Linked DNA regions of Homo sapiens. The protein of the gene in region 1 interacts with the protein of each later gene in a pairwise test. Each region holds a gene or a part of one and is shown in the gene's direction. Other genes may lie near its edges. The genes, in order: NRBF2, C1orf216, THRB and PPARA.

Evidence for each region.
Region 2: the proteins of NRBF2 (region 1) and C1orf216 interact in binary tests that used the Homo sapiens proteins (3 or more experiments, as listed by UniProt).
Region 3: the proteins of NRBF2 (region 1) and THRB interact in a two-hybrid assay, tested with the Homo sapiens proteins (one study listed by BioGRID).
Region 4: the proteins of NRBF2 (region 1) and PPARA interact in a two-hybrid assay, tested with the Homo sapiens proteins (one study listed by BioGRID).

The regions. Positions count from the first base shown.
Region 1 is NC_000010.11:63,128,341-63,136,335, forward strand, and holds the start of NRBF2 (nuclear receptor-binding factor 2), read left to right. Parts: upstream 1-4,987; 5' UTR 4,988-5,075; coding exon of another isoform or gene 5,076-5,130; coding exon 5,131-5,160; intron 5,161-7,995. UniProt on the Homo sapiens protein: May modulate transcriptional activation by target nuclear receptors. Can act as transcriptional activator (in vitro). Involved in starvation-induced autophagy probably by its association with PI3K complex I (PI3KC3-C1).
Region 2 is NC_000001.11:35,715,864-35,723,748, reverse strand, and holds the start of C1orf216 (UPF0500 protein C1orf216), read left to right. Parts: upstream 1-4,864; 5' UTR 4,865-5,042; intron 5,043-6,837; exon of another isoform or gene 6,838-7,248; intron 7,249-7,422; 5' UTR 7,423-7,427; coding exon 7,428-7,885.
Region 3 is NC_000003.12:24,484,847-24,491,867, reverse strand, and holds part of THRB (thyroid hormone receptor beta), read left to right. Parts: intron 1-7,021.
Region 4 is NC_000022.11:46,216,511-46,223,531, forward strand, and holds part of PPARA (peroxisome proliferator-activated receptor alpha), read left to right. Parts: intron 1-1,752; coding exon 1,753-1,891; coding exon of another isoform or gene 1,892-1,895; intron 1,896-3,301; coding exon 3,302-3,504; intron 3,505-7,021. UniProt on the Homo sapiens protein: Ligand-activated transcription factor. Key regulator of lipid metabolism. Activated by the endogenous ligand 1-palmitoyl-2-oleoyl-sn-glycerol-3-phosphocholine (16:0/18:1-GPC). Activated by oleylethanolamide, a naturally occurring lipid that regulates satiety.

The DNA.
Region 1 (7,995 bases):
CTAAAAATACAAATATTAGCTGGGCGTGACAGTGTGCACCTGTAATCCCAGCTACTCAGGAGGCTGAGGCAGGAGAATTGCTTAAACCCGGGAGGCAGAGGTTGCAGTGAGCCAACATGGCACTACTGCACTCCAGCCTGGGTGAAAGAGCGAGACGCTGTCTCAGAAAAAAAAAAAAAAAAACCACCAACAAACCTCTCACTAGGGACTCTCCACTAGACCATACCCAAATAGGGCAAATGCTTAGCTATAGCCAATCAAGTAATTACTTCCACATTCAAGGAATAAAAGTTCACTGCCTCTGCTGCTGTGGGCAGCTCTCTGAAATTTTGAGTGCTGCCTGATTCACGAGTCATTCTTTGCTCCAGTAAACTCTTCTACATTTAATTCGTCTAAAGTTTCCCTATTAACAGATGTTGGCTGGGCACAGTGGCTCACACCTGTAATCCCAGCACTTTGGGAAGCTGAAGAGGGTGGATCACCTGAGGTCAGAAGTTTGAAACCAGTCTGGCCAACATGGTGAAACCCTGTCTCTACTAAAAATACAAAAATTAGCTGGGCAAGGTGGCTCGGGAAGCTGAGGCAGGAGAATCCCTTGAACCTGGGAAGTGGCGATTGCAGTGAGCTGAGATCGCACCACTGCACTGCAACCTGGGCGACAGAGCAAGACTCCATCTCAAAAACAAACAAACAAACAAAAACAGATGTGAAATCTTTCATTTGTATGTGCCAGATATTTTGTATTACTCTTTCCAGATCCGGTCTCTACTTCTTACTACCCTGCTCCCTGCCCTTGGAGGCTGATTTTTATGAATTACATCAATGGGCTCCCTTGCCTTCTGGCTTTTGATTGGGTTTGGACAATGGAAGTCAGGGGAAGAGGAAATAAGGTGATTTCCCTGGATCCTCCCTGCAAGGTCACCTCAGGATAGTGTCCTTGATTGAAGGTCAGTGCTTCTTCAAACTATATTCTACATTTTTCTCCTCATTTCAGATTTCCCTCTTATTCATTTCTCTTTCTTTTTTTTTTTTTTTTTTTTTTTTTTGAGACAGAGTCTTGCTCTATCTCCCAGGATGGAGTGCAGTGGTGCGGCCTCAGCTCACTGCAACCTCTGCCTCCCAGGTTCAAGTTATTGTCGTGCCTCAACCTCCAGAGTAGCTGGGACTATAGGCATGTGCCACCATGCCTGGCTAATTTTTGTATTTTGGATAGAGATGAGGTTTCGCCATGTTGGCCAGGCTGGGCTTGAACTCCTGGCCTCAAGTGATCCGCCCACCTCTGCCTCCACCTCCCAAAAGTGCTGAGATTACAGGTGTGAGACACTGTACCCAGCCCCTTCTATTTCTTTCTTTATAGCCTAGGAGTTATTGCTTTTCTCATGTAAATACCTAAACTCTGGCCACACCTTTGTAAAACAGTCCGTTTATTAAACCCTTCTGGGATTATTTTGAGTATGTCATTGATTTGCTTTAGATACAATGCCTCTGGTAGTCTCAATAATGGTCCGAAAGATACCCAGGTCCTAATCTGTGGAAGCTGAGAATGTTACCTCATATGGCAAAGGGACTTTGTAGGTATGATTAAGTTAACCTTGAGATAGGAAGACTATCTTTAACTATTTTGTGGACCAAATGTATTCACAGGGTCCTTACTAGAGGGAGGCAGAAGGATTTTAAGAGGAAATGACATGACAAAAGCAGCAAGAGCTTTGAAGATGCAGTGCTGCTGGCTTTGAAGATGGAAGAAGGGGCTGTGAGTCAAAGGAATGCAAAGAATGTAGCTCCAGAGGCTGGAAAAGAAGGGGGCAAGGCCTTGCTGTATACCTTTGTTTTGGCGCTATGAAATTATTTTGGTCTTGGCCGGGCATGGTGGCTCACGCCTGTAATCACAGCACTTTGGGAGGCCGAGGAGGGTGATTCACGAGGTCAGGAGATCGAGACCATCCTGGCTAACACGGTGAAACCCCGTCTCTACTAAAAATACAAAAAATTAGCCAGGCGAGGTGGCAGGCGCCTGTAGTCCCAGCTATGTGGGAGGCTGAGGCAGGAGAATGGCGTGAACCCCGGGGGTGGAGCCTGCAGTGAGCCAAGATCGAGCCACTGCACTCCAGCCTGGGTGAAAGAGCGAGACTCCGTCTCAAAAAAAAAAAAAAATTATTTTGGTCTTCTAGCCTCCAGAACTGCTAGCCTCCAAATTTCTGTTGTTTTAATCCACTAAATGGGTAGTAACTTCTTACAGCAGTCATAGGAAATTAATACAGTGCCCAAGATAGAACTTTTCATTTTCCATACAAATTAGCTCCTTCCTATTGTTACCAGGGGGTCTTTGTTCTTAGAGCTCCCAAGATGGTGGCAGGCCACTTCCAAGATGGCGGCAAGCCTTTTGTTCTCTGACCTGGGGTTCTTGGCCTCACGGATTCCAAGGAATGGAACCTTGGGCCATGCAGTGAGTGTTATAGCTCTATTAGAAGCCGTGGGTCACAGAAGAGAACCGTGGAACCCAGCAACTAGTGTTCAGCTCGATTAGGACAAACCCTGGGCACTTAGCCTTGCAGGAACAATGGCGAGCCTCTAGCCCGATTGGGAGCAGCAATGGGCGCCTCGCTGGATCAGGAGCACAGTGGACACCCTGATGGATCCAGAGGGGTGGAAGTCAGCGGCGGGTCTGTGATGGCAGCAAACAGCGGTGGTGGACGGTGAGTGAAAGCTCAGCTCAAGCTGTAACAAACATGGACCAGAAGAGTGTGCAGTTGCAAGATTTAATAGAGTGAAAACAGAGCTCCCATACAATGGGAGGGGACCCAAAGGGGGTTGCCACTCCCTGCTCGAATGCCTGGGTTTATATCCTGATCATTGTCCCTCCCCCTGTGCTCTCAGGCGATATATGATTTGACTATTTCTTTACCTTCTGCTTCTAGCCTAATTTGTATTTTAGTGAGCCCTCTTTACTACCTGATTAGTCGGGTGTGAACTGAGTTACAAGCCCTGTGTTTAAATGTGGGTGTGGTCACCTTCCCCAGCTAGGTTTAGGAATTCTTAGTTGGCCTAGGAAATCCAGCTAGTCCTGTCTCTCACTATCTTGTCCACTTGGTTGTTTACTTTTTTATTTTTTTATTTTTAGAGACAGAGTCTCTCTGTGTCACCCAGGCTGGAATGCAGTGGTGTGATTGGTCTCAGCTCACTGCAACCTCTGCCTTCCAGGTTCAAGCAATTCTCCTGCCTCAGTCTCCCCAGTAGCTGGGATTACAGGCACGCGCCACCACACTTGGCTACGTTTTAGTGCTTTTAGTAGAGATGAAGTTTCACCACGTTGGCCAGACCAGTCTCAAACTCCTGGCCTCAAGTGATCTGCTCTCCTTGACCTCCCAAAGAGCTGGGATTACAGGGGTGAGCCAGTGTGCTAGGCCACTTGGTTGTTTAAATACGAGATTTGATTCTTCCATTTTCTGTATGCTTTACTGCCATTCCATCACTAACTCCTCTCAACCTGATGCCCAAAAATATATCTTGAATATATCTACTTCTCTTCCAAGGTTTCCGGCACATGGTAGAAACATGATAACTATGTAATGAGTGGATGCATGACCCAATCTTCCCTACTTCCATTCCAGTCTGAGCGCCCATAATTAGTCAATCAACTAGCTTGTCTTGGTTCTTTTTCCTTAGGCCTTCCACAATCTATTCTTCACATTACAGGGAAATTAATCTTTTCAAAACTGTAAATTAAAGCAGATTATTCTCTAGCTTAATATCCTTTACTTATTTCCCAATGCACTTTGAGTAAAATTCAAATGTTTCATTGTGCACTGCAAGGACACCTATGTTTTGGAAGTTTCCTATCTCTCTGGTATCTTCTTTTGCATCTCTCTGAAATGCTGCAGCTCCCGCCACCCGACCTCCCCGCCTTTAGAGTTGAGGCATAAGACATTTCCTTTGTCGAGAAGGGTCTTTGTTTAACTGGCATTTTAAGGTTTAATCTTAAAGATTACGCCCTTAGCCAGGTGCGGTAGCTCATGCCTATAATCCCATCAGTTTGTGAGGTCCAGGAGGGCGGATCATTGAGCTCACTTGAGCTCAGCAGTTCAAGATCAGCATAGGCAACATGGCGAAACCCCATCTCTACAAAAAATACAAAAATTAACCTGGCCTGAGCACTTGTAGTTCCTAGCTACTTAAGAGACTGAGGTGTGAGGATCGCCTGGGGCAGGGGGCGGGCAGAGGGAGGTTGCAGTGAGTGGAGATTGCGTCAGCAAGACACTTTCTCAAAAAAAATCACGCCCCCCATGAAAGGCTTTCCTTTACCACCCAACTCCACCTTGGTTACTCTATCACAGCTCCCTATGTGTTCCCTTTCCAGCATAAATCACAACTATTTGTCAGTGAATTCCATGACAGAACGAACCTAGCTTTTGTTTGGCACATAATTGTTAAATGAATGCAGTATTATATTTGGCTAGACCAAAATTGTTTCCCTATCAGTTTGTGAGCAACTTGAGGGCAGAGCCCTAAATCATTCGAGTGTGCTGACCTCTAGGGGGGTTAGTCCAGTGCATGGTCTAGAATTGCTCAAATCGGCCTTTTGAAAAAATGAATCATGTACAATGATAAAGGTGTGGACAGGACCACAAGTAACGGTGTAACGATTAGCAGATTTAAGGAAAAGTCAGTCTAAAAGGAAACGTGAGAAGCTAATTGCAGAAGACAGCCATTTCAAGTCTTCAACAGCAAGGCTGTACCTCCTCACGTGACTTCAGTGTAGACTTTAAGAACCTAAACTAACGCTTCTCGCGAGAGGAAAGATTGACCGCTCGCAAGCGTACATCAGCTGGTGCCCCGCCTTCCCTGGGCCCCACCCACTGCCTGTCCTCATTCCCACCTTGAACCAGCCTTTTGCGCGTGTGACGTCATGGCGCCGTGCGTGGCCTCGGCGGTGGCGCAGGGGGCGGGCCCGCGGCGCGGCGCCGGAGGAGGAAGTGGTGAGGTTGTTGCTCCTTCAGCGCCTATCGCTGGCTCTTGGGGCGCAGAGAGGGGCCGCAGTCTCCGCGGCTGCGTCGAGCTCCCTTGCAGTCCCCTCCATGTTCCCCGGCGCCACTACTCCCCTTCCTAAGGCCGCCGCTTACCCCGGGGTCTATGGAAGTAATGGAAGGACCCCTCAACCTGGTGAGTGTCCCACAGAATATAGCGTTCGTCTTGGGTGCCTTTGCCTCAGGAGCCCGGCCCCGTCCCCGGCGCGTCGGCTAACCCTTTAGGCTGGGAGGTTGGTTTGGCAGGAGTGGTCGCAGAGGCTGTGAGGGGCTGCTAGGCAGGCCCTGGCCCAACTGCGGCTCCAGGCTAGCCACTTCAGACTTTGCCCTCCTGGGGGATCCCCGGGAAGTCCTGGCGCCCCCTGTCGCGGGGCCCCGGGCGAGGGGATGCCACCACCTGGGGCTGCCACCTCCTCTCTGGCTGGGGGAAGTCCTCTTAGCGCCACGTAGCCACCTCCCTACAGCCTGGAGAGGCACTGAAGCCGGCCAAGGCAGAAATGGTGTGATACTGGTTTTAAGTTCTAGCAGCAGGGTCTGAGTCTGAGTCGCCCCGCTTTGGAGAGGTGGAGGAGTGAATAGCCTCCTCACCCTCCACTTCCCCCTCCTCACCCTTCACTTCCCCCTCCTCACCCTCCACTTCCCCCTCCTCACCCTCCACTTCCCCCTCATTTCTCACATACATTCACATGCATAAACTGAGTCTACCGTCTTCCAAATATATTAGAGACAGCTGGGAAAAAGACAGCCGTTCCTGTATTTAGCTCAGATTCATCAATTTAGGCATCATGAAAGTGTAATAGGTGTTTGCTGTTCTCAGGAAAATGGCTGATAGCCTGTTTACTTGTGTTTTAAGGCGTTTCAGGTGTTGCAATTAAAAAACAACACAACAGAACCCCACTAACAACGGGAAGCATGAGTTCTTTTCAGACTGGCCATTGCATCTTTTAGTTTTCCAGAGAGGTTACCCATTTTGGATGTAAAAGTCAGATTACTTAAGGTTGCACACAGGAAGAACTTTTGAGTCACAGGTTTGCAATTCATTTGCGATGGTGGAATTGAAAGAAAGCTCTATAGAGGATTCTTTTCTCACATTAGAACTCTGAGTCCTAGAAGAGCAGTAGAGTCAGGTGGTTTAAGACTCTAGGTTTTGAAGCTATGCTGCTTGGATTTGAATTCTAACCTCGTCACTTGATATCTGTGTTACCTTGGGCAAACTACTTGGCTTCACTCGGCTTCAGGTTTTTTGGGAGGATTAAAGGAGTAAATAGGTGTAAAGCACTTAGAACTGTACTAAGTACATAGTACAGTGTAAGAGTTAGCGATTATAACCAGACCATAAGCCCTTAATTTAAAATCTATTTGTAGAATAAAGGTTTGGACTTGAGCTTTAAAAGCCTAAGATTCTCGGACCAAATCACTGGTGCCAGGTTAACTGTTGTGAGGCGCCCCTCCCTTTTAAGTTGGGTCTTGCCCCAGGTGGTAGGTATTTACACTTAAGACGAATTGGACTACATTTGCGAGTTTTTTTTAACCAGGGAACTGGCCAGGCGCCGGGGCTCACGCCTGTAATCCCAGCACTTTGGGAGGCCGAGGCGGGCGAATCACTTGAGCTTAGAAGTTCGAGACCAGCCTGGGCAACATGGCGAAACCCGGTCTCTACAAAAAATACAAAAATAGCCTGGCGTGGTGGCGCCCGCCTGTGGTCCCAGCTACTCGGGAGGCTGAGGTGGCAGGATCGCTTGAGCCCAGGAGGTGGAGGTTGCAGTGGGCCGAGATTGTGCCACTGCACTCCAACCTGGGCGACAGAGCGAGACTCTGACTCAAATAACCAGGGAACTGTCTTGCACTTTTCTTGTTTTTAAGGCGACATATAGTTGGCAATGAAATACAGTGGATGGCTCAATACTGAAACTTCACAGGAGTATTACTAGAAATAATCAGCTGTTTACGAAGTGCTTCAGAGTTCAGGTGTCCTTGCCAAATGAGCATTGGTTCAGTTCTAGTTAGCTTCACATTATTTGGCTGCAGAATAACCCCCGCCAACTGCCCCACGAATGTGTGATGTTTTAAAAGGAGACTAGAACTGGGTGACAGTTGCAGATAGAACTGCAGAATCACTACCAGTTCAGGAAAAATTAGTTAAATGGTGGCAATACCATTTAAATTCTCCTCCATAAAACGGAGCGAGTTTCGACAGAGTCTTTTTAAGCAGGCTAGCGTAACTCCGTATTTCAGCCATAAAATTTATGTAGGCAAGTATCAGAAATTTGGCATCTTGAATTCTTTTTTTTTTTTTTTTTTGAGATGGAGTCTCTCTCTGTCACCAGACTAGAGTGCAGTGGCGCGATCTCAGCTCACTGCAACCTCCGACTCCCTGGTTTAAGCGATTCTTCTGCCTCAGCCTTCTGAGTAGCTGGGATTTCAGGCACGCGCCGCCACGCCCAGCTAATTTTTGTATTTTTAGTAGAGACGGGGTTTCACCATGTTGGCCAGGATGGTCTCGATCTCCTGACCTCGTGATCCCCCCGCCTGGCCTCCCAAAGTGCTGGGATTACAGGCGTGAGCCAGCGTGCCCGGCGGACACCTTGAATTCTTAAACCATTTGAGTCTTGAAAGATCTAATTTCCAGCATAGTTGTTTATTGGAAGGTAACAGTAGAACAGACGTTGACGGTTACTTGAATGAGTACCAATTACAGGCCTCTGGCACTCAGAATTGTCACTCACAGTTTTATAAGATGAGGTTTTTGAAAATTCAGACTTTTTTTTTTTTTTTTTTTCTTTTTTGAGACGGAGTCTCGCTTTGTCACCCAGGCTAGAGTGCAGTGGTGCGATCTGGGCTCACTGCAGCCTCCACCTCCCGGGTTCAAGCAGTTCTCTGCCTCAGCCTCCTGAGTAGCTGGGATTACAGGCATGCACCACCCTGCCCGGCTATGAAAATTCTGACATTCTTTTATGTCAGTGAACACCTA
Region 2 (7,885 bases), on another chromosome or scaffold:
AAAGTGCTGGAATTACAGGCATGAGCCAACACACCATGACTTCTGTTTCCCTTTCTAAACAAGGAGCTCCCCAAGACCACGACCAGTTCTGATTCTGCTCTGAATTCCCAACACAGTACCTGGCACAAAGTAAGCACTCTGTAACTGTATGATACATGTAAATGAATGGGTGGGAAGGGACAAGGTCTTTGAAGCTGAAACACCTTGATCTTACCCACCCCTTTCTTCCTGAGAATACTGATATTGAGAAATTATCCACCTATGAATAACCCTTAGGCCTGTCCTATTTCCTGGATGAGAAATTCCTCTCATCTTCTCTGGTCTCCTTGCCTGACACCCCAGGCCCTGGGACCTGGATCTGGCTACTCACTGCTAGCCTCTCTTGGCTCTGACATCTGTTTGCCAAGAGGCTTACCCGCTGTCCATCATTGGGTCTTGATGGCATGGCCTTTTGCAAAGCCCTGTTCAGGCTGATACTGGCCATCTCTGGAGGTTTCTGTGTCCTTGCCACTTAAGTTCCTGGCATATATGTGGGTAGGTGAACCCAGCCACAGATACCCTTTCACTTGGGGGTGAATTATTCTCTGGTGTCCTCACTGGAAAAGCCTCTGGCAAATGAATAACAGGCATCTCTATAGCTGCTTTTTTGTCTTCCTGTGGACATGGACATCCCTGCATTTGGAGCTTTTTTTTCTTCAGGTTTTGAGCTCTGAAAATTATGGAGTGACCAGGACTGCTGTGTGAGCACTGACTGTATTAATTATACAGTGCTAGAATATTCCATACAACACTGCCCTTGATTAACAAAACTGGCTACAGGCTGGGTGTGGTGGTTCACGCCTGTAATCCCAACACTTTGGGAGGCCGAGGTGGGCAGATCACTTGAGGCCAGGAATTTGAGACCAGCCTGGGCAACATAGTGAAACCCTGTCTCTATTAGAAATACAAAAATTAGCCGGTGCAGTGGCACACGCCTGTAGTCTCAGCTACTCAGGAGGCTGAGGCATGAGAATCGCTTGATCCTGGGAGGCGGACGTTGCAATGAATGGAGATTGCACCACTGTACTCCAGCCTGGGCAACAGAGTAAGACTCCGTCTCAGGGAAAAAAAAAAGAAAGAGAGAGACTACAATCTGATTTCCTTTAAATGAATTCACTTGACTTAGCAGGTATTGTATTATTTAGGAATAACTAGCTTTAGGCCAGGTGTGGTGGCTCACGCCTGAAATCCTAGCACTTTGGGAGGCCAAGGCAGGCAGATCACCTGATGTCAGGAGTTTGAGACCAGCCTGGTCAACATGGTGAAATCCTGCCTCTACTAAAAATACAAACATTCACCAGGTGGCGGGCACCTGTAGTCCCAGCTACTCAGGAGGTTGAGGCAGGAGAATTGCTTGAACCCAGGACGTGGAGGTTGTAGTGAGCCAAGACTATGCCACTGCACTCTAGCCTGGGTGACAGAGAGAGACTCCATCTCAAAAAAAAAAAAAAAAAAAGGAATAACTAGCTTTTTAGAACAATGGAATTGATGACTCAGCTATTCCAGGCTGGGGTGCTGCCCTGCAGAGCACGATATAGGCTTTATTTATTTTATTTTAATTTTTTTTTTTTGAGACAGGGTCTTACTCTATCGCCCAGGCTGGAGTGCAGTGGCACGATCTTGGCTCACTGCAATCTCTGCCTCTTGGGTTCAAGCGATTCTCCTGCTTCAGCCTCCTGAATAGCTGGGATTACAGACGCGCACCACCATGCCTGTCTAATTTTTGTATTTTTAGTAGAAACGGGGTTTCATCATGTTGGCCAAGCTTGTCTCGAATTCCCAGCCTCAAGTGATCCGCCTGCCTCGGCCTCCCAAAGTGCTGGGATTACAGGTGTGAGCCACCACACCAGGCCCAATATAGGCTTTAAATCAATGTATATAATGCTTTGTCCTTTGTGGCCAGAATGCATAACAAGAAGAGGTAGCGGTGGTTGTGGCACCTTATATGATTTACCTAAGGACTAAGAGTTTTCTTCCTGTCTCTGAGATTCTGGGTATTGCAGGTCAGAAGGTGATAGCATCGGCCAGGCACAGTGGCTCACACCTGTAATCCCAGCACTTTGGGAGGTCAAGGCGGGCAGATCATTTGAGGTCAGGAATTTGAAATCAGCCTGACCAACATGGTGAAACCCTGTCTCTACTAAAAATACAAAAATTAGCCGGGTGTGGTGGCACGCGCCTGTAACCCCAGCTACTCGGGAGGCTGAGGCAGGAGAATGACTTGAACCTGGGAGGCGGAGGTTGCAGTGAGCTGAGATCGCGCCACTGCACTCCAGCCTGGGTGACAGTGAAACTCTGTCTTGGGAAAAAAACAAAACAAAACATGGTGATAGCATCATGGGAGGAATGTTTCTTCTAACCAAGAAACACAAAGATGATTCCCTGGGATTTCGGCTCCTGGTAGCACTAGAGGAATAGGAGAAGGGGGTGGTCTCAGTGTAGACTGGACTGATCATGGCTACCAAGGAGAAAGGGAGTTACTGTTACCTAATAAGTGTTGAGAGGTGCGTGAATGGAACCCAGAGACCCTGGGGTCACCACCTTGTGCTATTGTAGTAATCAGCATTCTTTCAATTGTCGGTGAAAGAAATTCCACTCAAGTTAGGCTTGGCAAAATAAGGCATACAAAACTATAAGTTTAGATGCAGGAAACAGGGTCTGCAACATTATCAGAACTATCTCTCATCTCTGTTTCTTCCCTGCCTCGTCTTCCTTTAATTTCGTTTCAGAAGATCCCAGAGAAGGACTCTGACTGGCTCACCTGGAGTGGAGCTCCTATCCCTGGATTCTTCAGGCTTTCATTTGACCCACATGGTTAAGCTGGGAGAGACAGAGTCCAAAGAGAGGCGGAGAAGGGCTATTCTGGGCAGAACAAACAATTGATGACTTTATGGCTCTGTGGTCTGGGCAGAACTGCATAACCCTAGATCACCAAAGCTGAGAGCCTTTAGGAGTGAGGATTTGGGCCAGGCATGGTGGCTCACGCCTGTAATCCCAGCACTTTGGGAGGCCGAGGTGGGTGGATCACAAGGTCAGGAGATCAAGACCAACCTGACCAACATGGTGAAACCCCATCTCTACTAAAAATACAAAAATTAGCTGACGTGATGCATGCACCTGTAATCCCAGCTACTCAGGAGGCTGAGGCAGGAGAATCGCTTGAACCCGGGAGGTGGAGGTTGCGGTGAGCCGAGATTGCGCCACTGCACTCCAGCCTAGGCGACAGAGCGAGACTCCATCTCAAAAAAAAAAAAAAAAAAAAAAAAAGTGAGGATTTGGGTCACCCCAGGCTGAAGGCCAGGGGAACCTGAAGTGGATAAGGGAAGGGAGAAGACTTAGGCCACAGGATCTGATGTAGAAATGGGGCTGACGTCTCCACCTGTATTTTCTTAGCTGGAGGAGTGTGCAAAGTTTGAATTACTTCTGCCTTCTCCTTCTTATTTCCTTTTCCCTTTTAAAATAGTCATCATAATCATAAAAATTTCTTTTCCATTTTCCCTGTTTTTGCATATAGGATTTCTTGGTGTGATTTAATTTGCCAATTAGTCTCTAGGTTGCAGAATGGTGACTTGGAATCAAATTGAAACTGGAAGAGGGCACCTCATATATTAGGGTCAGCAATTACTGAACTCTGTTCTCTTTTATTCCAAACAGGGCCCCCAACTTCACATTTCCCCAGGGTGCAAAAGAGTGAGGGGGGTCAAGCTTCAGTAGAGTGGAGCTCTGAGAAGAATCCACTGGAGTTTGGAACCCAAGACCCTTTTTTATCACGCTGTTCCTCCTCACCTGGGCAAAAGCACTGGTACCCACTTCACAGGCATCATGGGTGGGCTCTGTGTCCTGCGGAGAGCCCCCGTCCCGGGTACAGGACATCAGCCCTGAGCCCTGTCCCAGGCTTGGATCTTCTTTCTCTCTCTCTCTTTTTTTTTTTTTTTTTTTTTTTTTTTTTGAGACGGAGTCCCACTCTGTTGCCCAGACTGGAGTGCAGTGGTGCAGTCTTGGCTCACTGCAACCTCCACCTCCCAGGTTCAAGCGATTCTCCTGCCTCAGCCTCCCAAGTAGCTGGGATTACAGGCGCCCGCCACCAAGCCCGGCTAATTTTTGTATTTTTAGTAGAGATGGGGTTTCACCATGTTGGCCAGGCTGGTCTCAAACTCCTGACCTCAGGTTATCTGCCCGCCTCGGCCTCCCAAAGTGCTGGGGTTACAGGCGTGAGCCACCGCACCCGGCCTCAGTGACTTTAGTCAAGTAAGCACAAAAAGGAATATATAATTCCAAATTGTGATAAATGCTATGAAGAAAAGGAATGTGCTCTGACATAAAGGGGGGAACGAACGTGATCTAGGGAGTCAGAGATCTCTCCGAGAAGAGATCTGAAATAGGAGTAAGTCGAGAGGGGGAAGAGAATGCTAGACCGAGGGAACAGTGCGTGCCAAAGCCGCGTGGCGGAAAGGGGCGTGTGGGAGGGTAACTGCGGAGAGGGAGGGTAGAGGACGAAGCCGGAGAGGCAGACGAAGGGCAGGACGCACAGAGCCCCGCGGCTACCGCCTTAGGGGTTGTCCCGGCGGTGGGGAAGCCATTGAGGAGTTTAACGCCGGAAGGTGGTGACTAATCAGATTTCACTTGAAAATGGCACGGTGTCTGCAGCGAGGCTAACTGATGGGAAGGGCCCAGCGAATGCCAATAGGAGAGAGCACCGGACCTGGAAGGCCTGGGTCAACGCGGCCCCGCGCGGGGGCGAAGCGGTTCCGGCGCAGGGGCCTGGCGCGGGGCTCCGCGGAAAACCGAACCGGCCCACGTGGGACCGGTCGCTCCGCCCTGCTGCGCAGACGCCGCCTGACTCCGCAGTCCGGGACTGGGGCTGGGCGCGCTGCCCGGGAGCCCCGCACCCACGCCTGGACCGCGGAGACGCCCAGGCCGAGGAACCCCCAGCCCAGGGACTAGACACCACCAGGGCCGGGCGGAGCCAGAGCCAGACGCGCCGGAGCGGGCGCCTCTACGCCGTGAGTCCGAGTCTGGGGCCCGAGGCGGGGTGGGGCTTGGGGCTCAGCCGCGGGAAGCGGGGAGTCACAGTGGCCTCCTTCGAGGAGACTAGGGAAGGATGGTCTCTGTCTCCTGGGGTGGTCTCCCACTCCCGCAAGGCCAGAAAAGGAGGCTGCCTCCTGTTTGGGCGGAGACCTAGTCCTGGCGTGTCGGGGTTCTCATTTTACTATCTCTGAGAACCCTGTGATCCCTAGCGCCACCCCCACCCCATCCCAGCTTCCTTCACGGCCCCATCCAAGTATAGGAAAAATAAAAAATTGGGGCGAGGGGAGATCTCTAGGCACCTTCCCACAAGCCTTGCTTAGAGGGCGATTAGAAACGAACTGTTCCTACACCCTTCTCCCCAGGACTTCTCTGCCCATTGCTGGGGGTGGGGAGGGTCCATGCCACCTATGGAGCGCCTTCCAGTGCCGGCTCCACTTACAATACCCTTCCTCTTCATGCTCTTCAATTGTTCTAATCCCAGTGCTGTTTGGTCAGTAGAATCCCTTTGTCAGTTCAAATCCTAATTTTGGTTAGAAGCAGGTTATGGAGGAGAGAAGAGTGGTGTGGTATGCCCTCCCTCCAGGGCCTCAGAATGGAGCAAGCTAGGGACGGGGACCGCAAGATAGTGGCTGTGTTCCAGAGGCATTGGGAGGGAAGGGGGCAGGCTCAGAAGAAAAGCTTGTCACTGGGGAAGGCGGGGCTCCCTGGCTGGGGTAGGAAAGGGAACCAAACCCAGCTCTTCCAGAACCCAGCTCTTCCAGCCCTGGGGAGTCAAGAGTGGATTCCTGAGCATGGAAATTCACTGCAGTCTCTTCTCCCATTCACTCACTTAGCAAGTACCTGTATGCACAGACAGCCTGGTTCAGGGCTCTATGCTGGCTGACTCTGGGGAATATGATGGAGGATATATACAGGAGGTCCAAGCCAGATTACAAACTGCTATTACAAGATCATTACCACAAACCAAAAATGCCAGTTGAATAGACATTCACTGATCGTCGACCATGTATGCCAGGGACGGATGCAAAGTTGGATAAGACAGTGTATACCCAGCGCAGTGGGGACCCAGAGGAAGGCATAACTAACCGTGCTTGTTTATGTAATATTGATTGGGGCAGTATCAAGACGGCTTCAGAGACATGGGGACATGGAAACATGGGGATATTACAGCTAATTTTGAAGTACAAAAAGGAATTTGCTGGGTGGAGAAGGGAGGAGCTTTGAGGGGAGGGGAGAGGAAGGATATTGTAGGCCAAAGGAATACTGTAAGAAAAACAATGGTGTGTTTTGAGATCTCTGGGCAGTTTGCTATGATGGGAGGGGCAGAGTGGCAAGAGGCAGGTATGGAGGGGTGAGCAGGGGCCAGATCAAACAGGGTGTTGTAGGCCAGGTAGAGGTTTAGCAGGAATTCAGGGAGGGCATTAGGAGTGGTGACAAGTGAAATTTACATTTTTAACTGGAGGCAGAGAGATCAGTGAAAAGGCCGAGGCAATAATCCAGGTCAGAAATGGCCTGGAAGAGGAAGAATGGTCAGAATGTGGTTATTAATGAGATGGGAGAAGGAAGGATAGTGAGGACCCCAGGATGCTCTCAGCTTTCTGGATGGAGTACAGAGCCATCTTGCTGAGGATACTGAAGGAGAGCTTGTTTGGTTATGTAGAATTTTGGCGGGGGGCGGTGGTGGAGGGGGATGATGTCACTCTGTCACCCAGGCTGGAGTGCAGTGGCGCAATCTCGGCTCACTGAAACCTCTGCCTCCTGGGTTCAAGTGATTCCCCTGCCTCAGCCTCCCAAATAGCTGGGATTACAGGTGCCTGTCACCATGCCTGGCTAATTTTTGTATTTTTAGTAGAGATGGGGTTTCACCATGTTGGCCAGTCTAGTCTCGAACTCCTGACCTCAGGTGATCTGCCTGCCTCGGCCTCCCAAAGTGCTGGGATTACAGGTATGAGCCACCATGCCTGGACTGGTTATGTAGAATTTGAGGAGACTATGGTTGGTTGCAGGGTTGGATAGCAGTTGGATCTGGGCTGAAGACAGATCTGAGAGTCACCAGCATATGATGGTCTTTGAAGCTACAGCAGAGAATGAGGTCCTCTGGAGAGAAATGCACAAAATCAGAAGACAGCCTGGCTCTGAGGACGGAGGAAAAACCCTTTGCAGGAGACTGAGAATGAACAGGTAGACAGGGAGGACGAAAACCACGAAGGGAAGTGTTACCAGAGTCAAGAGAAAGGGCTTGACAGGGAGTGGCCAGGCTCTTGCTTGCAGCCTTGTCCCTGCAGCTAAGTTGCCCTGACTTCAGGCACCCCACCCTGTCCTACTGTGACTCGGTCTCCTGCTTTCCCTTTACAGGCTAGATGTTCGCCATCCAGCCAGGGCTAGCTGAGGGGGGCCAATTCCTGGGGGACCCACCTCCTGGATTATGTCAGCCCGAGCTCCAACCAGACAGCAACTCCAACTTCATGGCAAGTGCCAAGGATGCTAACGAGAATTGGCATGGGATGCCAGGCAGAGTGGAACCTATCCTGAGGAGGAGCTCCTCTGAGTCACCCTCTGACAACCAAGCCTTCCAGGCCCCTGGATCCCCTGAGGAAGGGGTGCGCAGCCCCCCAGAGGGGGCAGAGATTCCCGGGGCTGAGCCTGAGAAGATGGGTGGTGCTGGCACAGTCTGCTCCCCTCTGGAGGACAACGGCTATGCCAGCAGTTCCCTGAGCATTGACAGCCGTAGCAGCAGTCCTGAGCCTGCCTGTGGGACCCCGCGAGGCCCTGGCCCTCCCGATCCCCTTCTGCCCTCAGTGGCCCAGGCTGTGCAGCA
Region 3 (7,021 bases), on another chromosome or scaffold:
ATGTTACCTTGATCCCTGGAAGACATTGACCTTCAACTCCCTGAATTTCAGCAGAATCTTTATGAGTTCCAGAAGCATTGCCAGTGCTAAGAGTGAAATTCCAGGGACTAGACTTCACTGGGTGATGGCAGTGTCTTCTCACTCAGCAGGTCCTGGCAGTGCCTCTGGCAATGGCAGCCCTAAGTGGACCAACCAGTGCATGGTGGTACAATTTGGGCTGCAAAAGTGGTGGTTGGTGAGGGGGCAAAATGTAATGGTCAGGATCCAACACAAGATAGAAATAAATAGGTCTTGGTGATAGCTTTGAAAATAACCTGATGGTTATCATATGTTATTAGTTAAGTCAGCCAGCCTCTTTTTGCCCTCTTTTGCCGCTTCATAAAAGTATTCTGAACCAAATGATGGTGGGAAATATTGCATTATTTGAGTTTTCAAGTGACCAGAGCATAATATCAAAGGAGTCATCTTCAAATTAGTTATTCATGGAAACTCTTGCCAATTGAGAGCAAAAGGAAATTATAATTGAAGATTATGGTGATTTGTTTTTGTGTCTAGAGTATTGACTTTCATAAGTGTGCTGAGTAAATGCATAGTAAAAATTTCACAAAATCAGACTGTTAAAAATGGGAGGGGAAGAAAGATCAAAATCTTGTAGAGGAGGGAAGATAATTAAACTACAATCCTAAGTGCTTACTGCTTTAGAGTATTTAATTTGGCTCTGAGCTTCTTAGTAGTAGCCAAGTTAACAGAAAAAAAGGGGGTCTGGAGGTGGCATGCATTAAACTTGTAAGGATGACACATGTAGAGTGCCTGCCATGGTGCTTGCCAACTAGTATATACTCGTATGAAATATCAAATTATATCATGGATAATACTTGAACTTCAATTCTACATAAAGTGAAGTGAGGTTCTTTATATGATCTTGTCTTGTTACCAACTCTGGAATGGAAAAAAATTGCAGAAGACATAATAATGAAAAGTAACCCAGTATGTTTATTGTTGGGGGCCTGAGCTACTATGGCCTATCAGTGGAGATTCTGGTGATGAATCCCAATGCAGAAATAAAGCTCAGGAAACCTAGAGGAATGAGTGGTTACCACACTCTGTAAGCTAATTTTCCCAAATATCTAGTGTGTCAGCCAACTTTTGATTAGAGCAATTTGAGAGGACAGGACAACGAGGTACTTGAAAATGACCCTATGGCCATAAACACCCCTGAATATGTGGCCCCTGATGCTTTGGGCTTTAGTCTATATAGCTCTTATCACCCTGCAGGGCAGTTTGTTTCCATTTCTGTTCCCACCTCTAAGTTGTGATGAGGCACGATGTGTGGGTTTATTCATCTTTGACTCCCCATAGCCTAGCAAAGAGCTTGGTACATGGGCACAGGTGAAACACTGTTGGAAGAATGAATGGAAGGGTAGAAAAGGCAGTGCTTCTCTTTCCCTTCTGGGTTGGTATTAAGTGTCATATTTGGACTTGGATTTGTCCAGAGTGAACGTTTGCTGCCTGCATTGCATCATATGTCCAGATCACAGCTGTCTGTTTTGCTTGAAGGGCTTGTTCTAGTGTCAAAGCTGGTTGAGCAATGGATGGCAAGTTAACTCCTTGTTTTATTTAAAGTCATTCTGATTCTTTGATTTGATTCCTCATTCAGTCTACAAATATTTATGTATCTACTATGTACCTGGCTCTGCTAGCCATTTTTCAGTTCAGCATGCAGCCCAGTGACCTATGAGACAACATATTAATACAAAAGGATTCTGAAATTGTCTCCATTGTGATGAGATGAGTATACCTGTTGGAGTCTCTCATATGGCCCCTAAAAATAGTTATTTTATATCTGAGGAGGTGATTGTTTGTGATTTCTATAGCCCATGTATATTAATGTAAATTCCAGTGAGATTCACTCAAGAATCTCTTGTATCCAAGTAGTAGGGGAGTTGAATATATTTAGACCGGTGAGCTTCTGATTTAAAATGTTCATTCTCCAATTTAAGTTCCCAAACTTGTTAGTCAATTTTGGCATTTAAACAAGTGGGGGGGAGTATCCAAATCACTGAGTCACAAGTAATATATTTCCATATCTTCCTCTCAGGAACCTGGCCAACTGACAGCTAGAATAGTGATCTATGCTCAATGCTAATGTTGTTTGGTCCCTACTGTCCTAATTTCAAAGGACTTTGAAGTCTTTATATACTGTCAGCTCTTGTGCAGTGCTATTTTTATTGAGTTGAGAAACTGAGTTCTGCTGTGAACTTCAGGATCTTTTCCAAATAGCAAATCAGGGGAGTCTGGAATTAGGACCTAGGAACCTTGACTGTCCTGAGAACCATATTGTAGCTTTTCCATCATGACAGTCAGTCCTAACAATCTGATATACTCCCTGGAAAGTGTTTCTGATAGATGTAGATGTGCTTGATAACAGGGCTCATCTCCCTTGCTCAGACACATTAAATTTGCACAGAAGGCAGATCTACCTGTAGCAACCCAGAATACTTGCATTTGAGGCTTTTGCAAGAAGATAATCTGTGATAATCTTGTACTGTCTGCTGGTCAGTGCTTACCAGAAATTAAATGATATTGGTATAGTGGTTTAAATCTTTTTTTTTTCTTATTTTTTTTTTGCGACAGAGTCTTGCTCTGTTGCCAGGCTGGAGTACAGTGGTGCAACCTCGGCTCACTGCAACCTCCACCTCCTAGGTTCAAGGGATTCTTGTGCCTTAGCCGTAATTACAGGCACATGCCACCACACCCAGCTAATTTTTGTAATTTTAGTAGGGACAGGGTTTCACCATGTTGGCCAGGATGGTCTCGATCTCCTGACCTCGTGATCTGCCCACCTCAGCCTCCCAAAGTTCTGGGATTACAGGCATGAACCACCACTGAAATCATTCAGTTGATTTTATTGATTGACCAACATCCATCGATATGTTTAAAATTATTCTAAGAAGCAATATTTTTTATTTAAAAAATCTTTTATGGCAAAATAATTTAAAGGAACTTAACGAAAACCCTCTGTGATATCATCTTACCACTTTATGTGCTAAAAGCAAACAGTTGTTTGCTATTTGTCAGACAGTGCCTTCTGTCTATTAAAGCTATTTTTCCAGTTACTACTCATTCATTTAAGGCAGTGAAGGATCTTGAAGTATATTCTTTTAGCAGTTAAGATATATTGAATTGTATTGAATAGCTTATTTTATTCTAGTTATTTGAAAATTACTGAACAATGGACAATGTGCAAATCATTGACATCTGTCTCAGATCTGCTGAGACAATCGTGATTTAGAGATTAAAAAAAAAAAAAGAAGGCAAATTCATGGTCCAACTCATCACAGTGAAGAAACTTGTGGCTTACATATCTCAACTTACGTTTGTCTTGCTGATCTGCATGTTTTATCCAATTTTTATTTTTCCTAATCCTATTTTAACAAATACTATCTATAGTTTATTTCATATCATATGCACACATGCACAAACACCTCAATACATACATGTCTCTGTGTTCTAAGAGTGGACTGCAGACGAGGCATACACAATTAGGAAAGGATTGGTCTGGACTGAATTGCTCATTCAACTTCCTACTTCCCAAAGAGGGTCTTCAGGGAGTCATGGCTTCTCTTCTGTGATCAAGAATTTAGGCATTTATAAGAAAGTCATGAGTGACAAGTTTATTAAAACAAAAGTGTGGACAAAGGAATGTAGACTGAAAGCAGGCATATCTTCTTTATTAGGGAATATACTTACTTGACTCCTGGAGGCTCAGGAATGTTTGTGATGAGGAATGTTGACAAGATAGTCATGGTGTTAGTAGCATAATATATGATCCTGACATTCAGGAACCTGTTGAGTATTGTAACTCTTGTGACATGTTGTTCCTTGGTTCTCAAGATGGTTCAGATGTACTTCTTCCCTTTGCCATTTGTTTCTCTTGGGATTCTGTTTTTTCTGATTTCATCAATGTCTACACAAAGCAGGTGCTCAGAAAATAATGATTGATGATAGCAATCATAATGTTTCTTGGGCTTGGTCATCTTTTTGCACATTTCTGTCTTATAGTCATAAATGTCTTAACAACTGGCATGTCCATACTTGCAGAATCTGTCTCTGTGACAAGTGTGTGTCATGTTCTCACATACAGTGGAAAAGGCACTGCTTGTCTCTGGCTTCTGCTGTGATTCCCATGCTCAGCTTTTAAATCACAGTGAGAAATGCTACAGTCACCCTGATGTCCCAAGCCACAAACCCTGTCATTGTTTTCAGTCCCTTCTACTTGCTCCTGAATATGTTGACAGATCCTCTTCTTATATTATTACTTTTTGCTTCTTTTACTGCTGTATTTGTTTATTTTACTCTAGGCTCAATTATGTTTGGGAAATCTTGAGTTTAACAACTTGTAAAAGTTTCCAGAGCCTATTTTTATACTAGCATGCATTATAAATGTCCAAGAAAGGGGAGAGCAGGTAGCAAAATTCATTTGATCACCATTTTATTTGTGTGTGTGTGTGTGTGTGTGTGTGCTTGTGTGTCTAAAACCTTAAGTGGCAAAAGTTCAGCACAATAGGTTGTGAGGAACAGTTCACTATATCACACTTTTTAAAAATCAGGCTCATATGTTTTAACCTTTTAATACAGTTCATAAAAAGTGACAAATGACCAGTATCTAGCACCACAACAGAACCTTTTTGCTTTTTCACACACACACACACACAAACCCCTAGCAACTTGTATACAACACTGGCTAATGCTGCCTGTTGTTGAAGTGTTTTGCAAGAATGCAAAAGTCCTGCTAAATTTCTGTCCCTTTGAAAACATTATAATCATAATCTTTCCTTGACTTTCTTTCTGCTGTTTAGGTGTATTAATTTATATAAGCTGGAGAATGGTTTATTTCTGCTGTATTTCTGTTTACTTTTAAAATTTTACCTAGGCTTCACTGCAATTTCTGCTATACTTCTAACATCTGGAGATCTAGAATAAAGTACCTATATCTGAATTGTAGCTGCAACAGGGAATAGAATAAGGTTGTTTAGTCTTGTGTTATTTTTCTTTAAAAAAAAAGGAACCAAGGGAACCTTACACAGAAAATATTTTTTGAAACAAGTTAAGTTATGACCTATGTAGATGATAAACCTATACATTTGTCCTGTAATGTAGCAGTTATAAGGGATTTGAAAAGCATCTCATCTCCTTGAGGACTTGTGAGAAAAAGATCCTAGGCATCTGGCTTATTAATCTATCTCCCACTCTATGGGTTCATAAACATAAGGTATTGCTAAAGTGAAGCCATGCACTAGAATGTGGTGCACATGCATTCATGTATCATTGATTAAGAATATGTGTTTCAATTTATCTTTATTGAAGTTGCCACAAAAATCAAGCCTTATAATAAGTAATTTTTTTCTTCTGGAGTCTGTCCGTTGGTCACAAATGCATGGGACATCTGCCAAGTGCCAGACACGATGGTAAGTGCCAAGACACCATGGTAGAGCATTTAAAAATTCTTGTCGTATGGATGAGATGCTCGGAATCTTCTGGGGCAATCTACAGGAGGTGATTTAGTGTAGAGTAGTGTTTCTCAGCAGAGGTACTATTTGAGTTTTGAGCCTGGTAATTCCTCTACGCTATGGCATTTGCGGCCAGATAATCCTTTGCTGTGGAGGGCTGTCGTATATATTACAGGATGTTTAGCAGCATTGCTGGCTTCTACCCACTAGATGCCAATAGCTCCCCCAACCCTCCAGTTGTGACCATCAAAAATGTCTCCAGATATTATCAGGTGTCTACTGGGAGGCAAAACTGCTCCTATTGAGAACAGCTGGTGTAGACGTTTGGAACTGGGGCCGTGGAGTGGGAAATGTGTGGATTTGTATGCTGGTTTCACCTGGCTTCATTGCATGTGTTCAGTTTCCTCATCTATCATATGTGGAGATTAAATGAAATAATATAGTGCTTGAGTCACAGTCAAGTATTTCTAAATATTAGCTATTTATAGTAGTGGTAGCATTAATACTTTAGCAGACAATTAAAATATTTGTAAGTCCAATGACATAGTTAAGTACAATGTACATTGTGGGAACCCATAGGGGTGGGAGGGTTCTAGGCAGAAATAAATATGATATGCCTATGAAGTGAAAGTAAAAGTATGAAGCATTTGGGAAATTGTAAGGAGCCCAGCCTGACTCATGTGCAAAGGACTATAAATGAGGCCATTGGAGCAGGCAGGAGCCAGATGGCGAGGACCTTCCTGGGCACAATAAGGAAGATTGACTTTGTCTTGATAGCTTGAAGAGACTTAAGAATGTTCAGCAAATCAGATTTTTATTTTAAAAGAGTTCTTTGGGATAGGTCTTGAGTGAGAGACTGGAGGTGATGAGCCCAGTTAGAGACTCTTAGAATAGTCCACTGAGAGATGATGCCTGCTGGAGCTGAGGCAGTTATACATTGCTGTGATGTCTTTGGGAACAGATTTCACTTTCTCCGAGATGTGGCAAAATTTTTCTAATTTAATTCCAATAATGAATATTTTTAGCAAGCTAGCTCTACATTTGGGGGAATTTCAAGTTTAATTTGAAAGCAGATTACATGATAGATTCTCTTTAAAATGTTTTCAAGTGAAGCTTAATTTAAAGACCATCTCACAGCCTATTCATAGTTGAATATTACTTCAAGGGTTTCTCTGCCATTGTATGTACATGCCTATAGCTCCTCTGTCTGACAGGAACGTGTTTCTATATGATTACATTGAAATAGCATTGACATTGTCGTGTTGAGTTTCATTATTTAGTGTGAAGCATTTCAGTATTTAATGTTAAGTGATTTTCTAACTGATGGGGATTTTATTTCTTTAATGATCCAGATTAGAAATGGATGAAGATAATGAATGAATGAATGAATGCAGGAATGGGTGGCATTATGGAAATATCACCTAATTAAGAATAAAAATATTCTGGACAAGTCTCTTGGCTGATCTGAGCTTTAATTTTTAGTCATAAAATGATACTTGTAGGTATATTAG
Region 4 (7,021 bases), on another chromosome or scaffold:
TCATGCTCCTGCCAGGGAAATTGGCCATCAGAGACACAGAGTATCTTGCTTAGGGTCCCACAGCCCCCAGCAGCAGGGACTGGAACCAGAGACTGGCTGCTCCTGCTCCCCAGCAGTTCCTTCCTGCACATCAGGGGCTTCTCCACCTGATTCAAGCGACAGGAACCCCCTGTGCATCTTCATCCTCCTGCTGGCTCAGCCTGCCCTAAACAGATGTGACCTGGGCCAGGAGTGCATGAAGGCAGGCCCTGTTGTCCTGCATGCTGCCAGCTGGACTGGTGGCCCTTCCGTGTTTGTCAGCGTGGTGATGAGGAGAGCTCCTGTAGCAGCGTCCCTTTAGGGTTGCACAGACGTGCTCAAGTCTGGCGCCTTATGTACGTGATATGTGGGAGATCATCATCTGAATGTTTGGTTTGAATCAGAAATCCCTTCTCACGGTGCACGCTGCAGGTGTTCACTAACTTGGAAAATGCCACCGCCTTTCTGGCACAATGTACCATCTTGGAACACCAGCATTCTGCCCTGAGCCAGGCCTGGCCTCAGAGGCCTGGGCCACAGGGAGAACCTCACAGCCAGGACACTGTGGCACTCTGCTGTCTAGAAGCCTGTCTCCCCACCCTTCCCATTCTAACCCCATGCGTTCCTCAGCCTCCCCACTGTGCAAGCCTAGGTAAGGACATTATGAAGACGTCAGCCTGCCTCTCACATTCCCCTGCACACTGCTGTCCCTCTCCCGCGGGCCAAGCAGACCCACTGTGGCAAAAATATAGAAGAATGACTTAAAAGCAAAGAGAAAAAAGAACCCAAAGCAAAAATGAACTCCTTCGCATGTTTTCTAACCATATACCTTTGAAAAAGCTCCTTATAAAGTGGCCTTTTCCTTAGGGCCATGATTAATTATTCATTTAGTTTTGTTTTTTATGGACTATTTAGTAACATTGTTTCTTGCTGGGTAGAGTTTAAGATGCTTTTACAAAGCAAGAAAATTGTTTACAAACAGCTGGCTTCCTTTTATTATAATTTTTGTCTTTGAGGGAGTTAATATACTCTTACAAAAATTCTTAGAAAGTCTTTAGTCACAAATATGGAAATGTCACAATGCTGGGGATAGTTACATTCATATACATTGTAACAAGGCTGAGTAACTCTTTGGAAAACTATAATTGTGTTTTCCCAAGTCAGATGAGGGCATTTTGAAATGACTTCGAATGCTGCCTCATTTTATTGTTTTTCACATTAAATGTAACGACATTTAAAGTTCTGTATTTGTCCTAATCATTCCAGACTTCTTAGAAGAACTATTTCTTTCTTTTTTTTTTTTTTTTTTTTTTTTTTTTTGAGATGGAGTCTCACTCTGTCGCGCAGGCTGGAGTGCAGTGGCACAATCTCAGCTCACTGCAACCTCCGCCTCCTGGGTTCAAGTGATTGTCCTACCTCAGCCTCCTGAGTAGCTGGGACTACAGACTTACATCACCATGCCCGGCTAATTTTTGTATTTTTAGTAGAGACAGGGTTGCACCATGTTGGCTAGGCTGGTCTCGAACTCCTGACCTCAGGTGATCCACCCGCCTCAGCCTCCTAAAGTGCTGGGATTACAGGCATGATCACCATGCCTGGCCTGGAATAACTTTTCTCTAAATTTTGTTCATTTAAAAAGAAACAATAAATGAGCAACAAAAAAGGTGAGTAAAGCAAGTGCGCTGGTTTCTCAGTGGCCCAGGTCTTTAAATCCACTGTGTATTACCCTCACAGGGCTTCTTTCGGCGAACGATTCGACTCAAGCTGGTGTATGACAAGTGCGACCGCAGCTGCAAGATCCAGAAAAAGAACAGAAACAAATGCCAGTATTGTCGATTTCACAAGTGCCTTTCTGTCGGGATGTCACACAACGGTAGGTAAGGTGGCCCTGCACATTTTCCCAGTTCGTTCCTCAGTTCCCCTTCCTTGCTCCAAGGGAACAGATCAAGCTATGGATGAATGTGCTTCAACATTTCACACCCAAGTCATTTTGTAATCAGAGTGGCCTAAGAAAATAAAAGTCGCCCAGGCGCGGTGGTTCACGCCTGTAATCCCAGCACTTTGGGAGGCTGAGGTGGGTGGATCACCTCAGGTCAGGAGTTTGAGACCAGCCTGGCCAATATGGTGAAACCCCGTCTCTACTAAGAATGCAAAAATTAGCTGGGTGTGGTGGCACATGCCTGTAGTCCCAGCTACTCGGGAGGCTGAGGCAGAAGAATCGCTTGAACCCGGGAGGCGGAGGTTGCAGTGAGCTGAGATTGCGCCACTGCACTCCAGCCTGGGCGACAGAGGGAGATTCCGTCTCACAAAAAAAAAAAAAAGAAAAAGAAAGAAAGAAAGAAAATAAAAGTCTCCCAGGTGCGGTGGTTCACACCTGTAATCCCAGCACTTTGGAGGCCGAGGCGGGTGGATCACTTGAGGTCAGGAGTTTGAGACCAGCCTGGCGAACATGGCAAAACCCCGTCTCTAATAAAAATACAAAAATTAGCTGGGCATGGTAGTGCACACCTGTAATCCCAGCTACTTGGGAGGATGAGACAGGAGAATAGCTTGAACCCGGGAGGCGGAGGTTGCAGTGAGCTGAGATCGCACCACTGCACTCCAGCCTGGGCGACAGAGTGCGACTCCGTCTCAAAAAAAAAGAAAAAAAAAGAAAAAGTCTCAAATAGCTGAGATTCAGTGGTGCATTGGACTCGCTGTTAGAAACTTCAGTGGTAAGACTTTGATACAGAATCGAAAAACCAAGTGGAAGGCACCAAAATGACAGAATGTTCACCTCGTCCATAGGAAGGGTGTACCACCTCAAACATCTCACCACGTTATGAATTTCCTTCTAGCCAATCATTTAATAGTTTCAGAACATGCTAATTGTGATGTGAATGTAAGTCGTTCATAAGAGTTGCATGTCTACCTTCTGGAAAAAGAAGCAGTTATTATATAAACTCATCCCGAAGCCCCGTTCACCTCCTTCACTCAAAGGTTGATGATGCACCTGATAGTGGTGTGCACCCTACTAATGAGACGAACGATGGTGTCACCTTCAGCCTGCACCTGTTAACGATGGTGTCACCTTCAGCCTGCACCTGTTTAAACATCTACAGTGTATGGAGTTTGAGTTTTTCATCTCTCCATAGTGGAAAGCCGAATAGTAATGAAGGATGGGTCTGAACTGCCTGTGAATTTTCATTCCTGGTTTAAAGTCCTGGGGGAGCCCCTCGTCCAGCCCTGTCCGCGCAGTCATGACCTCACTGCTCATGCCTGTGTTTCCCCCTCCAAACCCTAGCGATTCGTTTTGGACGAATGCCAAGATCTGAGAAAGCAAAACTGAAAGCAGAAATTCTTACCTGTGAACATGACATAGAAGATTCTGAAACTGCAGATCTCAAATCTCTGGCCAAGAGAATCTACGAGGCCTACTTGAAGAACTTCAACATGAACAAGGTCAAAGCCCGGGTCATCCTCTCAGGAAAGGCCAGTAACAATCCAGTAGGTGTTTGCGGCTGTTCTGGGTTCTCTTGGCAACATGGAACCAGTGTCGTAGAGGACGATTAAGGACACATGTGTTGAATGTTGAGAAAATTATATTTATCCCACAGTTAAGCAAAGGACAGCGAAGATGGAAACAGTTCATTCTGAGACTCTGAGCTGTAGCTTAACAACAACTCCTTTCTTCTTGCTTGGAGCCACCTCAAAGCTCTTAGCAACTAAGTTATTATACTGGCTATGTAATTAATACACTTAAAAAAAACCTTAATAGCTTACCAAGTACTAAGATGATTTCTTAGGAGCATTTTTTCTTAAATAGAGATAGGTTCTTGCTCTGTTGCCCAGGCTGGAATGCAGTGGTGCAATCATAGTTCACTGCAGCCTTGAACTCCTGGGCTCAAGCAATCCTCCTGCCTCAGCCTCCCAAGGAGCTGGGACTACAGGTGTGCACCACCACACCTGGCTATGTTTGATGTTGTTGTTGTTTTGTTTTGTTTTTGTTTTTTGGTAGAGATGAGATGTTTCCCAGGCTGGTCTCAAACTCCTGGCCTCAAGTGATCTTCCCACCTCGGCCTCCCAAAGCACTGGCATTACAGGTGTGAGTCATGGCACCCAGCATTAACTGGATTTAAAAAAAAAAAAACTGACCAGGCAAGATGGGTCATGCCTGTAATCCTGGCACTCTGGGGAGGCCAAGGTGGGCAGATTGCTTGAGTCCAGGAGTTTGATACCAGCCTGGCCAACATGGAGAAACCCCAACTCTACTAAAGATACAAAAATTAGCTGAGCAGGGTGGCACACACCTGTAATTCCAGCTACTTGGGTGGCTTAGGCATGAGAATTGCTTCAACCCGGGAGGCAGAGGTTACAGCAAGCTGAGATCATGCCACTGCACTCCAGCCTGGGTGACAGATCGAGACCCTATCTCAAAAAAAAAATAGAATAATAAAATAAATCCCTACTTTGAGGTGTATTAGTCTGCTATAAAGAAATCCCTGAGACCTGGTAATTTATAAAGAAAAGAGGTTTAATTGGCTCGTGGCCCACAAGGCTGTACAGGAAGCTTCTGCTTCTGGGGAGGCCTCAGGGAATTTGACTCATAGCAGAAGGTGAAGTGGGAGTAGGCGTCTTGCATGGCAGGAGCAAAAACAAGAGACACACACTTTTCACCCATCAGATCTTGTGAGAACGCTATCACTAGAGTAGCACCAAGAGGATGGTGCTAAACCATTCATGAAGGATCACCCCCATGATCCAGTCCCTCCCGCCAGGCCTCACCTCCACCACTGGGGATTACAGTTCACCATGAGATTTGGGTGGGGACACAGAGCCAAACCATATCATAAGGCTAGAAAAGGAAACCACTTACTTCCCACTCAAAATGTGCTCTTGGTCCTTTCTCCTAAAACTACTCCCTCCCTCTCAGACAAACATGCCTACATTCTTTTTCCGCCTTCAGTGAAAAGACAGTGACATCTTGGGGCTTAGAAAGGGCCACTTGTAAGCCAGGCGTGGTGGCTCACGCCTGTCATCCCAGCACTTTGGGAGGCCAAGACAGGCGGATCACGAGGTCAGGAGATCAAGACCATCCTGGCTAACATGGTGAAACACCATCTCCACTAAAAATACAAAAAATTAGCCGGGCGTGGTGGCGGGCGCCTGTAGTCTCAGCTACTTGGGAAGCTGAGGCAGGAGAATGGCGTGAACCCAGGAGGCAGAGCTTGCAGTGAGCCGAGATCGTGCCACTGCACTTCCAGCCTGGGCGACAAAGCCAGCTGTGTCTGGGCGCGGTGGCTCATGTCTGTAATCCCAGCACTTTGGGAGGCTGAGGTGGGTGGATCACTTGAGGTCAGGAGTTTGAGACCACCCTGGCCAACATGGTGAAACCCCATCTCTATTAAAAATACAAAAAATTAGCTGGGCATGGTAGCGGTTGCCTGTAATCCCAGCTACTTGGGAGGCTGAGGCAGGAGAATTGCTTGAACCTGGGAGCTGGAGGTTGCAGTGAGCTGAGATCGCACCACTGCACTCCAGCTTGGGCAACAGAGTGAGACTCTGTCTCAAAAAAAAAAAGAAAGGAAAAGAAAGGACCACTTGTTATAGAAAGCCTGTCTTTTAAGGTAGCTCTGGACCTTTTCAGAGGCAGCCAAATTGCCCCTCATGGTTCGTCCCCCACATCCCCGCCTGCCTGGCCTAAGTCCTCCTTCCCCCTCCCCAACAGTTAAATAAGTCTTTGTCTCCATTACAAAACAAATCTCAGAGCTACCTTCAAAGAAGAGCCAGCCCTCAGTTGGTGAATGAAGATACTTTGACATTTTCCTATGAGCATGGTGAAACAGGTTTAATTTGTATTAAATAGCTTGAAGCAATCCTTATTGGGAATTACAAGGTGGAATTTTAGTCACAGGAAAATAAAGCATTTCACAAGCTACTTACTTTCATGAACAAACCAAACCTCTTCTTTACTGAGTCCTTTAATTCTTCAGTGAATTCTCCAATTAAATAGGCCGAGACATTTTAGAAGTTTCCAGCAGACACCCACACTAGGCAGCTCCAGAGGCTTGTCCCAATTAGAACTTTCCTGGATTACGAGAGTGAAAGAAAAGGTAACTTTTAGCTTCGAGTCTCTATCCTGGATATGATTAGTACAGCCCAAAATTGGGATGGCTAAAACTTTTGTTTGCCAGCTTATATTTCTCCCTTGGATTTCAGAATTGAAAGCAGGCTGGGCACAGTGGCTCACACTGTAATCCCAGCACTTTGGGAGGCTGAGGCGGGAGGATCACTTGAGGCAATCCAAGAGTTTGAGACCAGGCAACACAAGGAGACCTCGTCTCTACAAAAAATGATTTTTTAAAAAACTAGCTGGGCATGGTGGCATGTGCCTGTGGTCCCAGGTACTTGGGAAGCTGAGATGGGAGGATGGCTTGAGCCCAGGAGTTCAAAACCAACCTGGGCAACATGGCAAGACCACATCTCTACAAAAAATAAAAACATTATCCAGGCATGGTGGCACATGCCTATAGTCCCCGCGACTTGGGAGGTTGAGGAGGATGCCTTGAGGCCAGGAGTTCAAGGCTGCAGCGAGCCACGATCGCGCCACTGCACTCCAGCCTAGGCGACAAAGCGAGACTCTCTAAAAAAAATTCGAAGCAGAGTTAAGTTGTCTTTCTTCCTAACAACCTGCCCCCACCATGGGGTGCGAATGGGACTCCTGGAGTCCTCCTGCACCTCCCCTTGGAGACCACCAAGCTCTAGGAACCCCATCACCCTCAGCTGAGGGTCACATGCAGCAACTAGCAGGCGGGAATCTGTTTGCATTTTGGCCTTAAAGAAATAAATAATAGGCCAGGCGCGGTGGCTCATGCCTGTAATCCCAGCACTTTGGGAGGCTGAGGCAGGTGGATCACCTGAGGTCAGGAGTTGGAGACCAGCCTGACCAATATGGTGAAACCCCGTCTCTACTAAAAATACAAAAATTAGCTAGGCATGGTCGTGGGCACCTGTAATCCCAACT